3 linked regions of the Homo sapiens genome follow. The protein of the gene in region 2 purifies or fractionates together with the protein of the main gene of each other region. This does not show direct contact. Each region holds a gene or a part of one and is shown on either strand. Other genes may lie near its edges. The genes, in order: UNC13B, DIRAS1 and TBCE.

Region 1 (3,656 bases), on a different chromosome or scaffold from region 2:
GAAAGAAAAGTACATGGAAATCACAGGTCAAACTTACTTACAAGAGCAGAGTCTTTGGTCTTTTCAACAGGCATAGAAAAATATTACCTGCTGCTGAAGGATCTGCCTCTAATTGAGGATGTTGATCTGAGACACCGAGGCATTTGGTCCAACTGAGTATAATTATATGCCAAAGAAAACAGCAATGAGAAAATTACACATAAAGTCCAGGTGGAAAGCTAATTGGAGATCTCCAAACATATAACAAAAACCATCTATGGAGTGGGAGGAGGGTAAGGACTGAAAACTACCTATTTGGGTATTATGCTGATTACCTGGGTGACAAAATTATCTGTATATGAAACCCCTGCAATATGGCAATATGCAATTTACCCATGTAACAAACCTGCATATGTACCCCTTGAACTTAAAAGTTGGAAAGAAAAAAATTAATAATAAAAAAACTGGTCAGGTGCAGTGGCTCACACCTGTAATCCTAGCATTTTGGGAGGCCAAGGTGGGCAGATCACTTGAGTCCAGAAGTTCAAGACCAGCCTGGGCAAAATAGGGCAATTCCATCCTACAAAAAGTAGAAAAATTAGTCAGGCATGGTGGCATGCACTTGTAGTCCCAGCTACTCAGGAGACTGAGATGGGAGGACAGATTGAGCCCAGGAGTTTGAGGATGCAGTGAGCCACGATCGTACTACTGCACTCCAGCCTGGGTGACAATGCAAGACCCTGTCTCAAAAATAAAAACAAATGTTTAAAAACCATCTACAGGCTGGACGTGGTGGCTCACGCCTGTAATCCCAGCACTCTGGGGGGCCGAGGAGGGCAGATCACAAGGTCAGGAGTTCAACACCAGCCTGGCCAACATAGTGAAACCCCCTTCTCTACTAAAAATACAAAAAAAAAAAAAAAAAAAAATTAGCCAGGCATGGTGGCAGGCACCTGTAATCCCAGCTACTCAAGAGGCTGAGGCAGGATAATTGCTTGAACCCAGGAGGCAGAGGTTGCAGTGAGCAGAGAGGGCGCCACTGCACTCCAGCCTGAGCAACAGTGTGAGACTCCATCTCAAAAAAAAAAAAAAAAAAACCTACAAAGATGTTCATTGTAGCACTGTTTGTAATAGTGAAAAGAAAAATATCCTGAATATCATCAATATAAAACTGTTTAAATTATGTATGCTTATATAACAGAATACTCTGCAGCCATTCAAAAGAATGGTATAGACCAGGGTGTCCAACCTTTTGGCTACCCTGGGCCACAGTGGAAGAAGAATTATCTCGGGCCATGCATAAAATACATTAACACTGGCCAGGCGCTCATGCCTGTAATCTCAGCACTTTGCAAGGCCAAGGCAGGCGGATCATGAAGTAAGGTGATCGAGACCATCCTGGCTAACAAGGTGAAACCCTGTCTCTACTAAAAATACAAAAAATTAGCCAGGCGTGGTGATGGGCGCCTGTAATCCCAGCTACTTGGGAGGCTGACAGGAGAATCGCTTGAACCCAGGAGGCAGGGGTTGCAGTGAGCTGAGATCGCGCCACTGCACTCCAGCCTGGGCGACACAGCGAGACTGTCTCAAAAAATAAAAATAAAATAAAAAAAATACACTAACACTAATGATAGCTGACAAATCTCATAATGTTTTAAGAAAGTTTACAAATTTGTGTTGGGCCACATTCAAAGCCGTCTTGGGCCACATGCAGCTCACATGCCACAGGCTGGACAAGCTTGGTTTAGACTCAGATGACCTGACAGGAAAATAGATCATTGAGGTTAAAAAACAAAAAAAGCTGAAGAATGCTATGTACATTCAACTGCAGAACCTATATACTCATCTGCAATGAAAATTTCCAGAAGGATAGGTAAGAGACAGTAAACAGTAGTTACCTCTGGGAAGTAAGAATACCGAATGGGGACAAGAGAACTTTTCCTTCTACTTTACACTCTAAACTGTTTCAACTTCTTATCTGTATATTTATCACCTTATAATAAAAACAAAATGAAAACAATGAATTAAAAAGTTAACAATAGTTGGGTGTGGTGGTGTGTTCCTTGTAGTCCCAGCTACTCGTGATGCTGAGAAAAGACAGTCACTTGAGCCCAGGAGTTCAAATCCAGCCTAGGCAACATAGTGAGATCCCATCTTTAAAAAAAAAATTAAATTTAAAAAAAAAGTTAGCAATGGTATTGGCAGGTGGTAGGCCCATGGAAATTTTTTTCTTTTTTTGTACTTTTCTGCATTTTTTAAATTTTCTATAATTAGCAATGTATTACCATACACATATTTTTTTTGAGACAGGGTCTCACTTCGTCACCCAAGCTGGAGTACAGTGGCATGATCTTGGCTCACTGCAACCTTGCCTCCTGGGTTCAAGCAATTCTCATGCCTCAGCCTCCCAAGTAGCTAGGATTACAGGTGAGCACCACCACACCTGGCTAATTTTTGTATTTTTAGTAGAGATGGGGTTTCACCACGTTGGCCAGGCTGGTCTCAAACTCATGTCCTCAAGTGATCCACCTGTCTCAGCCTTCCAAAGTGCTGGGATTACAGGCAAGAGCCACCACGACTGGCCTGCATTTATTACTTTTGGGGGAAAAAAATCCATAGTTAAATTATCTAACTATGTTATAAACACTGGGAATAACTATGTTATAAACACTGGGAATTACAGAGAAATATTATGGAAAGGTCTGATTCTAAAAATGCTTATAATTGCTTGGAGAAACTTGGTCGTGAATACCAAGACAATAAAAGTCAAACAAAATCCTTAATTTAGTTTACTGCAGTTGTTCATGTGGCACTGGTCCCTATGGAAGCCCAAAAAAAGTATCCGTATTATAAGTAAAGCTGTGCCAAAACATGTTAAAGACTTATATTTCTTTATACTTATGGAAATATTTAAAGAAAGACTAAGTGAATTCTATAAAAGAGTGGTTTCTTAAAAATTCAAGTCTAGGCCGGGCGCAGTGGCTCACGCCTGTAATCCCAGCACTTTGGGAGGCCGAGGTGGGCAGATCACGAGGTCAGGAGTTTGAGACCAGCCTGGCCAACATGGTGAAACCCCGTCTCTACTAAAAATACAAAAAATTAGCCAGGCATGGTGGCAGGCGCCTGTAATCCCAGCTACCCCAGAGGCTAAGGCAGGAGAATCGCTTGAACCTGGGAGGCAGAAGTTGCAGTGAGCTGAGATCATGCCACTGCACTCCAGCCTGGGCAACAGAGACTCCATCTCAAAAAATTAAAAAAAAAAAAAAAAAAAAATTCAAGTCAATCACCCGCTGAATGGTCAATATCCCCTTTAGAATCCTTACCACTCATTCAATTTCTGTTTAGTGTCAAAAAATCTACATAGCCCATTCCATTTGTTCTGAACAACCCAACTGTTCTTCTTTATGTTAAGCTAAAATCTAATTTCCTGTCATTTTCAACCACTGATCCACACTTGTCCCAGTTCTGTCCTCTGGAATGACAACAAAAAAGGTGACATAACTTCTACAAGACAGTTTTTTAAACAGTCTTCATGTACTATCGTGATCCTCTTCCTCTTAAATCTTCTACAACTAAATTTCCCATATTCTTCAAATGGTTCGGTTCCTACATGTTTCATTATTCTAATCACTCCCCTCTTAAGATAACCTAGCTTCTCAATATGCTTCTTAGAAGGA
Region 2 (2,309 bases):
TCCTACACCCACCACCTCCTCCACCCTTCATCCCATTCCTCACTTCCTACACCCACCACCTCCTCCACCCTTCATCCCATCCCTCACTTCCTACACCCATCACCTCCTCCACCCTTCATCCCATCCCTCACTTCCTCCACCCACCACCTCCTCCACCCTTCACCCCATCCCTCACTTCCTACACCCATCACCTCCTCCACCCTTCACACCATCCCTCACTTCCTACACCCACCACTTCCTCCACCCTTCATCCCATCCCTCACTTCCTACACCCACCACCTCCTCCACCCTTCACCCCATCCCTCACTTCCTACACCCGTCACCTCCTCCACCCTTCATCCCATCCCTCACTTCCTACACCCACCACCTTCTCAACCCTTCACCCCATCCCTCACTTCCTCCACCCACCACCTCCTCCACCCTTCATCCCATCCCTCACTTCCTACACCCATCACCTCCTCCACCCTTCATCCCATCCCTCACTTCCTACACCCATCACCTCCTCCACCCTTCATCCCATCCCTCACTTCCTACACCCATCACCTCCTTCACCCTTCACCCCATCCTGCACCTCCCCACCCTTCTTGATCCTTTACAGGCGGTGAGCTGACACCCCACGCCCACCACAGAGACAGGGCGCCATGCTGGTGGGGAATGCAGGATCCACTTTTTTATTGCAGGAAGACTATGTCTAGAGCGAAGGCTACACAGACCCCACGATGGGGGAGTGGGGGCACCCACATGCGGGGGGAGAGGGGGCAGGGGCGGAGTCACAGCAAGCATGGCCTGGCACAGTCCCCAGCACCAGGGATGCCCAGGCAGGATGGGCCAGCAGCCAGGACAGGCTCGGGTCCCCTCCTATTGCAGATGCCCTCTCTCCCCAGGGTCGGGCAGGGCCTGAGGTGGGAGAGGCCTGGAGGTGGGCAGGGCCCCAAGGAGATTGTGCTATCAGGGTGTGTCCCTGAGAAAGGGCCGCAGACCCCTGCCCAGCCTCACTCTCTCCGGCACCTTCAGAACCCAGAAGCTACTGCCAGGACAGGAGAGGAGGCAACATCAGCTGCTGGTGGGCCCTGGGCCAGCCCAAGTTTTGGGGGGACCCAGCTCTGCTCAGACACAATGCCAGCTCTTCTGGGAGCCCGGTCCACGTGCTGGATAGCAACACACACGCACGTGTGCACACTCCCTCTCTCTGAGTGTGTCCAATAAACATTTGTTGAGTAAACACTCACACGAACACAGAGGAAAACAAACATGCTTGTACCAAATCAGACACGAGCAATCTGTTACCTACATAGTCCCACCTGGCCACATGACTACAGAGACACATGTGTGCAATCTCTCTCTCTCTCTCACTGCACAAAAGGGCGTGCGCACACACACACGTTGCTTCCTCACACCCAATAAGACCAAAACCTCCATCTCACCTTCCCTCACTAACTTAGCTGCCATGCTCCGAGCCCCGCTGTGGAGAGACCCACATGGTACAGAACAAAGGGCAGCTTCCAGCCAACAGCCAGCGAGGAACTGAGGCCTTCAGTCTTGCAACAGCAAGGAACTGAATGCTGCAACAACCACATGAGCTTCTAAGAAGCAAATCCTTCCCCGATCAGGCCTTCAGATGAGACCTCTGCCTGGCGAATGCTTTGATTGCAGCCTCCTGAGATCCCAAGTAGAGGACCCAGCCAACCTGCACCCAGGCTCTTGACCCACAGAATCTATGAGATAATAAGCATGTGTTGTTTCTGGTTGCTACATTTGTGGTCATTTGTTACACAGCAGTAGCTGACTGATACAGATTTGGAACCGAAAGTCACATTGCTAGAGTCATGTTGCTATAGAGTGGAACACAGATCGTGTCCCTCAATCAGGACAAACATATTTACAGATAAATGCTCTCAGATAAACCATATCACCCACTCCCCAAAATATAGTCATGCTCATACAGGCACAAAGATTCACACAGACACCTCACACATATCCAGTCTTGCTGACAACCACACACAGGTATCTACAACTACCCACCTCTCTGTATACCCTACACCACTATTACACACACAGACTGCCACAAAAACATATCATCCCAGACAGACACACACAGGTATACACGCAGATGCACTTAGATACAAGTCACCCATCCGCGCACCCCAGGTTGCACAAATACACCATTCCATAGCCACTTCCGTGTATGTTGGACACAACCCTGTGGGGTCACACGAGTGTGGTGTCACTCAGACTCTCTCAAAAAACACCCAGAACCTCATGGCTGCAGGTACACTCGACTCCAGGACGCCACCTTCCCGGGCAGGCCC
Region 3 (3,656 bases), on a different chromosome or scaffold from region 2:
GCCATTGCATTCCAGCCTGGGCAACAAAGAAAGACTCAGTCTCAAAAAAATAAATAAAATTTTAAAATTTAAAAAATAAAAATACAAGTCTGGGTGCGGTGGCTCACGTCTGTAATCCCAGCACTTTGGGAGGCCGAGGCGGGAGGATCACGAGGTCAGGAGATCGAGACCATCCTGGCTAACACGGTGAAACACCGTCTCTACTAAAAATACAAAAAAATTAGCCAGGCGTGGTGGCGGGCGCTTGTAGTCCCAGCTACTCGGGAGGCTGAGGCAGGAGAATGGCGTGAACCCGGGAGGCGGAGCTTGCAGTGAGCCGAGATCGCGCCACCGCACTTCAGCCTGGGCGACAGAGCGAGACTCCGTCTCAAAAATAAAATAAAATAAAATAAAAATAAAAATAAATAAAAATAAAAATACAAAAATTAGCCGGGCATGGTGGTGAGTGCCTGTAATCCCACCTACTTGGGAGACTGAGGCACAAGAATTGCTTGAACCCTGGAGGCGGAGGTTGCAGTGAGCCAAGATCGTGCCATTGCACTCCAGACTGGGCCACAGAGTGAGACTGCGTCTCAAAGAAAAAAAAAAATGTAGACGTTACATTCTTTTTTTTCTGTCCCTTTCATGGGAAAGACTGTTGCTTACTATTAAGGTTGCAATGAAAGAAATTCCAAAGCCATTTCTGATTTACTACCATCTTCCGATCATAAAATTTAAATGTTTAAATTTTACTACAATTGTATTACCCTAAAAATGAGTTTTTTACTAGTTTTAAGTGCCCTTTCAAAATTTTCATTAACATGTAAGCAGAATTTTACTACCACTGAGACATATAATTTGTTCTACTTCTTTTATTAACTTCCTTTAAAATAAAGTAGGGCCTCACTATGTTATCCAGGCTGGTCTTTAACTCCTGGGCTCAAGCAATCCTCCTGAGGATTCCCAAAGTGCTGGGATTACAGGTTTGAGCTACCTCAACTGGCCATATTAACATTTGTCCATAAACATTTTTCTATACAGCCACAGAGTCAACACATTAATCATCTCAATATCCAAGTATGATACCACAATTTACTTAATAATTTCTCTCTTTTTTTTTTTTTTTTTTTTTTTAGACGGAGTCTCACTCTGTCGCCCAGGCTGGAGTGCAGTGGTGCAATCTCAGCTCACTGCAAGCTCCGCCTCCCGGGTTCACGCCATTCTCCTGCCTCAGCCTCCCCAGTAGCTGGGACTACAGGCACCCACCACCACGCCCGGCTAATTTTTTGTATTTTTAGTAGAGACGTGGTTTCACCATGTTAGCCAGGATGGTCTCGATCTCCTGACCTCGAGATCCGCCCGCCTCGGCCTCCCAAAGTGCTGGAATTACAGACGTGAGCCACCGTGCCCAGCCTCTCTCTCTCTCTCTTTTCTATTGGTAGAGAAGGGATCTCTCTATGCTGCCCAGGTTGGTCTCAAACTGCTGGCCTCAAGAGATTCTCCCGTCTCAGCCTTCCAAAGTGCTAGGATTATAGGTGTGAACCACTGCACCCAGCCAATCATTTCTCTAATGCTGTTTATTTACAACTCCAAAGAAAACAGCTAAAAACAGCTTTGATTTTTAAAATATTACCTTATGAAGTATTTCCTTGGGAAAAATTCTTAAGATAGATAAATATGTTTAAGGTTCTACAAAGCCAGCCAGGAGCGGTGGCTCACGCCTGTAATCCCAACACTTTGGGAGGCCAAGGCAGGAGGATCATCTGAAGTCAGGAGTTCCAGAGCAGCCTTGCCACTATGGTGAAATCCCGTTGCAACTAAAAATACAAAAATTAGCCTGGCGAGGTGGAGTGCGTCTGTAATCCCAGCTAAATATGCACAGCAAAATTAAAAATTAAAATATAAAAATCAGCTGGGTGTGGTGGTGCACGCCTATAGGCCAATGTATTTGGGAGGCTTAGGTTGGAGGATGACCTGAGCCCAGGAGTTCGAGGCTGCAGTGAGCCCTGATCACACCACTGTACTCCAGCCTGGGCAACAGAGGGAGACCCTATTGTACAAAAAAATGAAAAAATGAAAAAAAGGGCAGGCACAGTGGCTCATGCCTGTAATCCCAGCACTTCGGGAGGCCAAGGCAGGCAGATCACCTGAGGTCAGGAGTTCGAGACCAGCCCGGCCAACATGGTGAAACCCCCACCTCTACTAAAAAAACAAAAATTAGCTGGGTATGCTGGCGGGTCCCTGTAATCCCAGCTACTTGGGAGGCTGAGGCAGGAGAATCACTTGAATCCGGGAAGTGGAGGTTGTAGTGAGCCGAGATCGTGCCATTGCACTCCAGCCTGGGTGACAAGAGCAAAACTCTGTCTCAGAAAAAAAGGTGGGGCCGGGTGCTGTAGCTCACGCCTGTAATCCTAACACTTTGGGAGGCAGAGGTGGGTGGATCAACTGAGGTTGGGAGTTTGAGACAAGCCTAACCAATATGATGAAACCCCATCTCTAATAAAAATACAAAAATTAGCCAGGCTATGGTGGCACACGCGTATAATCCCAGCTACTCAGAGGCTGAGGTGGGAGAATCACTTGAACCCGGGAGGTAGAGCTTGCAGTGAGCCAAGATCGTGTCAGTGCACTACAGCCTGGGTGACAGAGGGAGACCCTGTCTCAAAAAAAAAAAAAAAGGGAAAAAAAAAAAGACAAGAGTGGCCGGGGGCGGTGGCTCACGCCTGTAATCCCAGCAGTTTGAGAGGCTGAGGCAGGTGGATCATTTGAGGTCAGAAGTTCAAGACCAGCCTGACCAACATGGAGAAACCCCATCTCTACTAAAAATACAAAATTAGTCAGGTATGGTGGCGCATGCCTGTAATCCCAGCTACTGAGGAGGCTGAGGTGGCAGAATTGCTTGAAGCCAGGAGGCGGAGGTTGCGGTGAGCCAAGATCATGCAATTGCACTCTAGCCTGGGCAGCAAGAGCAACCACTCTGTCTCAAAAAAAAAAAAAAAAAAAAAAAAAAAAAAAAAAGCCAGGCGTGATAGCTCACACCTGTAATCCCAGCACTTTGGGAAGCTGAGGCGGGCGGATCATGAGGTCAGGAGTTCAAGACCAACCTGACCAACATGGTGAAACCCCATTTCTACTAAAAATACAAAAAAGAGCTGGGCGTGGTGGCGTGCGCCTGTAATCCCAGCTACTCAGGAGACTGAGGCAGGAGAATCGCTTGAACCCGGGAGGCGGAGGTTGCAGTGAGCCGACATCACACAATTGCACTCCAGCCTGAGCGACAGAGCAAGACTCCATCTCAAAAAAAAAAAAAAGAAAAGACAAGGAGGAAAAAAGCATAAAAATATGAAGTGTAGAAGATGGTGCAAAAACCCCAAATTCATTCAATCAACAATTATATTATGGAGTGTCTGCTAAAAGCCAGATACTATTTTAGGCAATTGGAATAAAACAGTAATGGATTTTACAGGGAAGTACAATAAGAGATCTTCCCAAAAAAAAAAAAAAAATGCCGGGTGCAGTGGCTCACGCCTGTAATCCCAGCACTTTGGGAGGCTGAGGCGGGTGAATCACAAGGTCAGCAGTTCAAGACCAACCTGGCCAAGATGGTGAAACCCCATCTCTACTAAAAATACAAAAATTAGCCAGGCATGGTGGCATGCGCCTGTAATCACAGCTAG

The links.
Region 1: the proteins of DIRAS1 (region 2) and UNC13B purify together in Homo sapiens (affinity purification with mass spectrometry; one large-scale study listed by BioGRID and IntAct). This does not show direct contact.
Region 3: the proteins of DIRAS1 (region 2) and TBCE purify together in Homo sapiens (affinity purification with mass spectrometry; one large-scale study listed by BioGRID and IntAct). This does not show direct contact.

Annotation. Positions count from the first base shown.
Region 1 is NC_000009.12:35,165,007-35,168,662, reverse strand, and holds part of UNC13B (protein unc-13 homolog B), read right to left. Parts: intron 1-3,656. UniProt on the Homo sapiens protein: Plays a role in vesicle maturation during exocytosis as a target of the diacylglycerol second messenger pathway.
Region 2 is NC_000019.10:2,713,922-2,716,230, forward strand, and holds the end of DIRAS1 (GTP-binding protein Di-Ras1), read right to left. Parts: 3' UTR 646-2,309; downstream 1-645. UniProt on the Homo sapiens protein: Displays low GTPase activity and exists predominantly in the GTP-bound form.
Region 3 is NC_000001.11:235,370,380-235,374,035, reverse strand, and holds part of TBCE (tubulin-specific chaperone E), read right to left. Parts: intron 1-3,656. UniProt on the Homo sapiens protein: Tubulin-folding protein; involved in the second step of the tubulin folding pathway and in the regulation of tubulin heterodimer dissociation.